2 linked regions of the Homo sapiens genome follow. The protein of the gene in region 2 purifies or fractionates together with the protein of the main gene of each other region. This does not show direct contact. Each region holds a gene or a part of one and is shown on either strand. Other genes may lie near its edges.

Evidence for each region. The genes of interacting proteins can lie anywhere in the genome.
Region 1: the proteins of UNKL (region 2) and HECA purify together in Homo sapiens (affinity purification with mass spectrometry, with the first as the bait; one large-scale study listed by BioGRID). This does not show direct contact.

The regions. Positions count from the first base shown.
Region 1 is NC_000006.12:139,173,070-139,176,721, reverse strand, and holds part of HECA (headcase protein homolog), read right to left. Parts: intron 2,338-3,652; coding exon 2,183-2,337; intron 1-2,182. UniProt on the Homo sapiens protein: May play an important role in some human cancers. May be part of the regulatory mechanism in the development of epithelial tube networks such as the circulatory system and lungs.
Region 2 is NC_000016.10:1,404,574-1,408,225, forward strand, and holds part of UNKL (putative E3 ubiquitin-protein ligase UNKL), read right to left. Parts: intron 1-3,652. UniProt on the Homo sapiens protein: May participate in a protein complex showing an E3 ligase activity regulated by RAC1. Ubiquitination is directed towards itself and possibly other substrates, such as SMARCD2/BAF60b. Intrinsic E3 ligase activity has not been proven.

The DNA.
Region 1 (3,652 bases), on a different chromosome or scaffold from region 2:
AACTACTACTGCCTAAATGCTCTCCACTGAAGTTCCCTAACAATAAGAAACCCCTCCCCCTGGATTTTAAGACAGCGGCTGAAGCTGACTTCCCTCACCCAAACCTCCACGAAACTTCTTTGAAATTTCATTTTTCATTCTACTCTATAGAAAAGTTGCGTTTTCTTTGATGTAAAAATAAAATTTCCCAAGATACTCAAGTAAAATTAGCAATCCAGGAAGTGCGGTGCTGGTCTGAGGCTTCTGGAGTTCCCAGCACCCTGCATCTTCACTCATGCCTAGCCTCTCCGTAACAGCACAGTCCTGGAACCTTTCAGCAATGGGTCCAGGACTTAAGTGAATAACCACAAATTATAAATAAAACAGACTCAATTTAGACTCATTTTAAAAATGTACTTAAAAAGTATAATCTCAACTTGTTCTCAAAATACTCCTGGGAGGTAGGTAGTATTAGCTGACTTTTAGATAATGCAACTGAGGCACATGTGATAAAGCACCATGCCAAAGACCATGGTTAGAAAGCAGCAAGGCTGGAGTGAACCAAAGCAGCCTGCTGATCCTCAGCCACTGCAGGAACTACTTTTCTGTAACCTGAGATAAACACTCTTTTAACTACGTAATCTCTCTGAACAACATTAAAAGTGTGATTCTGAGCAAACCCGTCTTCACACTGTTATACCTTTCTAAGAATCAATTATTGCTTATTTTTGGCTACATCTTATTGAAGACTTCCCTTGATTCATTAGTAGCGTCTAACACTTGTATCCTCACTGATTTTTTTAAATTAACAATAATCGAACATATTTTCCATTTCAGTAGGGGGCCAGAAAAGAAAGGTCTGGGCTTCAATTGTTTTAAGGAAGAAATACAGTGCATGGTGAATACCAAGAGGCTGGGTGTGGCAGGATGCTGTTCTGTTTTTCCTCCTAAAGACATGGAAATAATCTCATTGCCTTTCAATGGTGTACCAGAAAGAACACCAGAACAGGAGTCACACGGTGCAGTCATGGCTGTGACACAATGTATGTAGACCTGGGTAAAACATCCCAAGTTTGTAGGCCTCCATTGTATGAGGAAATAAGGAGGTCGGTCTAGATCCCAGGTCCTTTCCAGTGCTAATCTTCTGAGTTAACAGGCTCAAAAGTTCTTTCACTTCCTTATTTCTTCAATTTAAAAGATAATCCTCCACGGTGTGTGTGTGCAGAGGGGAGCCACTTCCTCTGGTTTCTCTCAAGAGCTGGCATCAAGGCACAATAACTATCATAAAATGCCACAGTGAATAACTACTGATAATAGTAAAGATACTCTCTTTACAAAAATCAAGCCATAATGCTAAAGACATAAAACTATGCAGTAACTAATGAAGTATGTATCAGCTATTTGTACTAAAAAACCAGGCTGGAACACTTTAGAGCAAAGAAAAATTTCTCTCCTGCCCATGAGAGTATCAAGGAATTACCTAACAAGCTGTTTTCTTCCCCAAGCACTTGGAAATAAAGCAAGATATTTCCAAGCATTTTGTCTCCTGTGATTCTATAGGTTATTTGTGTTTTCATATGTGAATACTTCCCTCTTTTTCTGATGACAGCTAAATTTCAGATGTCCTCATAGCATGAGACAATGCCTCCTTTTAGTAGTGCTTTAAGGATTACAACCTCAAACACCTTACAAGGCATGCAATTCCTGGATAACTGTACTATCCCACAGAAAGAAAACAAGAAAATCCTATTTAAGAAAGTGACTTTCTTCCTTTTGAATAACATTTTTTCTATTAGAAATTTACTATAAGCTAATCATACAGAATCTTAGAAAATATACTCAAGGAAAAAGAAAACTAAAGGAACCATTCAGCCTCCCACCACTGAGACCATCTGGTAACAGGTTAGCAATTCCCTTTTCATGCTCACTTACTTACAAATGCAAGCATATTATTATACCATTTTATAACCTGTTCTTTTGACCTAATATACTGGAAATGCTTCCCACATAATTATATATTATTCTACAGTATTCCTTTTAATGACTGAATAGTATTCCACTAAATGACTACATTACAAGTAGTAACTCAGCCATCATTGCTGGACTGAATTTCTTCTTTATTGCCAGACGCATCTTCCCTACATTCACTTGGGGACAGAAGCCTAATATCACCCACTGCTCCCTCAGTGTGTTCAGTACCTACCTGACAACATGGAGAGGCAGCCAGGATGTCGTAGGTGTACATAGTGCCCAGCTGGTGCCAGCTGCCATCCCACCGTGACTTACACTTGATGCAGATGATCTTGTGAACCCCTTCCAGGCAGTCCACGCACACGGCATACAGATGCATGAGTCTCCCTGTGCACAGAAGACACAAGGCTCTGAGTGGCCATCATGGAAATCACATTTCATCTCCAAGGAGATAAAAATGTTTCATCTACCAATTATAAGCAAAGATTTTATCATTTGGATAAATATAAAAAGAAAAATCAATATTTAGTACACAAGCTGTCCTTTCAGGATAATGATGAATTACTAGCTGTTGTCAATAAAGCATGTATTTTAAGTTCAAGCATATTAAAAACTTGGCTTCAATTCACTTTTCCAAAAAGGGCTGCTGGGCTTACATAATGGGTCCATCCAAATTCAAGTAACAAAGCCACATACACTCAAAACCAGCCTGTACTGTATTCACGCAGGACTTCCTGCTCAAAAGTTTATGTTTAGCATATAGAGACTTAACCAACACCACTGATCTTGTCACAAGCTCTCTTGTGACAAGTCCCATCATAAAAATCAAAAGTCTGTCTTGGGGACTGATAGCCCAGAATTACACCACAACCAAAATTACTGTTAACTATCCTTGTCCTCAAAATGCTCAGCCATCACCACATCTAATTTAGGAACCAGAATTATATCTTACTCGTAATTTTTTAAAAGAAGTTCAATGTCTTATTATTCACCGAGCTCTTAAAAGTTACAACATGATCCCCCTCCATTATTTGATAACATCTTAATGTTAATAAAGGAAAGATGTCATCCTAGTGTATATGGAAGCATCACAGTTTAAATAATTAGGAAAGAGTCAGAATGCCCAGAATCTGCCCAGGCAACGTATAACAGCAACATTTCTGCTCTGTGTGGAACCCAGGGTGCTTCCCCATGTTAAAAACTACCATCAGGAGAACACATAATCCTAAGTGGCCTCATATTCAGAATGTGCTGCTCACTGCCATCAGTCAGACTATGGGTCTTCAGCACTCAGTAGTAAGGATCAACCTGCTCCTTACCCGATGGAAAGGTATGTATGTTCCATCTACAGTACTTAGGGGGAGCCCTTCGTTTGCATTTACTTGCATGACCCCCTTCCTCCTTGAGGGCAAGAACCATGTCTTAGTCATCCTTGTAGACTCAGTGACTAGCACAGTGTCTGGGATGTGGAAAGCACTTTATAAGTGTATGTTGGGTAAATGGATGGGGCATGTTAACAGCCAAAGACAGATAACCTTGGGGGCCTTTATGCCAAAAGGGGGAAGGATGACAAGAACTTCTTGAAATACTCCCCACCTCTGCTCTACGGCATTGAAAATAAAAGGGTCTCACATGCCACATCTACTCTGGCCTCGGGGCATGTTAGGAAGTCCGTTCAAGGATCCAGGAGCCACTGGAAAAA
Region 2 (3,652 bases):
TACAACGCTACCTTGGTACCCAGCGATCCTGCTCCTAAGTACACATCCAAAAAACCTGGAGGCAGGGTCTTCAGGAGACACCTGCACACCCATGTTCACAGCAGCGTCATTCGCAAGAGCCAAGAGGCAGAAACCACCCAAGTGGGCGCCAATGGAGTCAATAAGGAAAGCGCGGGCTTCCATCCACACAACATGGTTAATGCGGGCTTCCATCCACGTGACGGGGTACACGCAGGCTTCCGTCCACAAGACAGGGTAAACGTGGGCTTCTATCCACACAATGGGGTAAACGCGGGCTTCCAGCCACACAGTGGGGTATTTTTCAGACTTAGAAGGAAGGACTGGCACACTGGCTGACATCTGTAATCCCAGCACTTTGGGGGGCAGAGACAGGAGGATTGCTTGAGGCTAGGGGTTCAAGACTAGCCTGGGCAACATGGTGAGTCCCCATCTCTACAACAAATTTAAAAATTAGCCCGGCGTGGTGGTGGACACCTGTGGTCCCAGCTACTTGGGAGGCTGAGGAGGGAGGATCGCTTAAAGCCCAAAAGGCCAAGGCTGCAGTGAGTCGTGATTGTGCCACCACACTTCAGCATGGGCAACAGAGCAAGACCCTGTCTCAAAAAAAAAAAAAAAAAAAAAAAAAAAAAGGAGGCGAGGAAGGAAGGGAGGGAGGGAGAGGAAAGAAAGACAGGGAGGGAGGGAGGGAGAAAGGAAGGAAGGCAGGCAGCCAGCCAGGCAGCTGGGTACAGTGGCTCACGCCTGTGATCCCAGAACTTTGGAAGGCCAAGGCGGGTGGATCACGAGCTCAAGAGTTCAAGACCAGCCTGGCTGGTCTACTAAAAATACAAAATTTAGCCGGGCATGATAGCAGGCGCTTATAATCCCAGCTACTCGGGAGGCTGAGGCAGGGAATTACTTGAACCCGGGAGGCGGGGGTTGCAGTGAACCGAGATCGCGCCACTGTACTCCAGGCTGGGTGACAAGGGCAAAACTCCATCTCAAAAAAAAAAAAGAAACTGGAAAAAGTTTTAAGAAAATGCCTTACTCTTACGGACACCTAGGAGGTGAGAGGGAATACCTAAGAGAAAGCACAGAGCCATTGCTCACGGATGCCCAAGGAGGGGACGCACGAGCCCCCGGGGGTCGGGTGACAAACACGGTTCTCAAACTCATCCGAGACAATCAGTGAGCAGAGCCACGTGATTACACCCAGCACATGGGCACCGCTCTGCCTCACGCTCCAATGCCCTGGACCCACCGAGACCAGAGGATAGGAGGCAGCCAGATCCTGGAGTGCAAGAAGCTGCCCTTCCCTCAGGAAGCTCTCACCTGAACCCAAGGAGGGTCCACCAGACCCCCTTAACACATTCTCGAGACTGCGAGCCACATGCATCAAAATCACCTAGGAGGCCCGTGGCCCATGTGGTCCCCCCAGCTGGTGTGGACGAGGCCCGTGGATCTGCACTGCCGGCTGGTTCCCAGGGAACGTGCGAGAACCACCGGGCTTAGGAGACAGGCAGTGTACACGACTCCCTTCCAGCTTAAGGACGCAGGCATAGGTGGGGGGCCCAGAGCACAGCACTGAAACAGCTGGGGGTGATGGGAGGAACAGGCGTACTCCCATGCCGGGCTATATTGCTAATTTTTTTTTTTTTTGAGACAGAGTCTCACTGTTGCCCAGGCCGGAGTGCAGTGGCACAATCTCAGCTCACTGCAACCTCTGCCTCCTGCGTTTAAGCGATTCTCCTGCCTCAGCCTCCCGAGTAACTGGGATTACAGGCACCTGCCACCATGCCTGGCTAATTTTTGTATATTTAGTAGAGACAGGGTTTCACCATGTTGACCAGGCTGGTCTTGAACTCCTGACATCAGGTGATCCGCCTGCCTTGGCATCCCAAAGTGCTGGGATTACAGGCGTGAGCCACCGCGCCCGGCCTAATTTTTTTGTAGAGACAGAATCTTGCTGTTTCCCAGGCTGGTCCCAAACTCCTGGGCTCAAGCGATCCACTTGCCTAGGCCTCCTGAAGTATTTGGACTGCAGGTATGAGCCACTGCACCCGGATGCCTCTGAGTTTTAAAGACTGCTCGCACGTCCCAGGCCGGCCGTGGGCTTTCCTCTTGCTCCCAAAGCCCAAGCTCATCATGAGATCAGTTTAAACAGCAAATTCTACACACCCTGAAGTGAGTGGAACTTTCACCTACGCCTTAGGTCCTAAGGCATTCAACATTTTAAAATTAAATATTGCAAGAGGATCTTTTAATAGAAAGATCAGACTCCTGGCCGGGCACAGTGGCTCACGCCTGTCATTCCAGAACTTTGGGAGGCTGAGGCAGGTGGACCACCTGAGGTCAGGAGTTAAGAGATCAGCCTGGCCAACATGGTGAAACCCCATCTCTACTAAAAATACACACATACACAAAAATTAGTTGGGCATGGTGGCGCACGCCTGTAATCCCAGCTACTCGGGAGGTTGAGGCAGGAGAATCACTTGAACCCGGGAGGTGGATGCTGCAGTGAGCCGAGATCGTGTCACTGCACTCCAGCCTGGGTGACAGAGGGAGACTCGATCTCAAAAAAAAGAAAGAAAGAAAAAAAAAAGATCAGACTCCAGACCCGCCAGATACAAGCAGCAACAGTTAATCTTAGAAATGGATACTTGGAAAAGTTTCTCCTCCCACCAGTTACTCACAGAATGCACAGTGGAGACCCAGCTAGGCACACCCCGGACCCATCCAGACAGGAGTTCTGCACCTGCCGGACGACAGAGGCCTGGGGAGGCGCACAGGGCAAGCGGGAAGTGTCAGGTCTGTCAGGTGACACCGCCAAACAGAGCTCTGGAAAGAAGACAGAGGCCGGGCGCAGTGGCTCATTCCTGTAATCCCAGCACTTTGGGAGGAGAGGTGGGTGGATTACTTGAGCCCAGGAGTTCGAAACCAGCAAGACCCCACCCCTACAAAAAATACAAAAATTCAGCTGGGCGTGGTGGTGTGCGCCTATGGTCCCAGCTACTTTGGAGGCTGAGGTGGGAGGATCACTTGAGCTCAGGAGGTTGAGGTTGCACTGAGCCAAGATCACACCACTGCACTCCAGCCTGGGCGACAGAGTGAGGCCCTGTCAAAAAAAAAAAAAAAAGGACAAACCTGTGTCTGTGTGTCAATCTGGAAAAGTGGCACCACAGGAATGGGGCAAGCCTGTTTTTTCTGAGAACGAGACCCAGGGTGGCTGCAGGGCCACAGTGCAGGAGCGCTCTTCTGGACAGGGGTGGGCTGGCAGATGGCCACTCGTTCTGTGGCTACACAGCTGCAGGCCACGTGTATTTTTTTTTCCCAATGAAAATGGGCCTAGAGGCTGGGCATGGTGCCTCAGGCCTGTAATCTCAGGACTCTGGGAAGCCTAGGCATATGGATCGCTTGGGTACTCCGGAGGCTGAGGCACGAGGATCAGCTGAGTCCAGGAGGCAGAGGTTGCAGTGAGCCAAGATCGAGCCACGGCACTCCAGCCTGGGAGACAGAGCCAGACCCTGGCTCAAAAGAAAAACAAAAAAAAGATGGACCCTGGAGAGGCCCGGGGTCCCGCGGGGCGCCTTTTCTATTTCTTTACCGCAATCTGTTTAAAGAGAAAAGCAAGCGCCTGCCCCTCAGCTACACC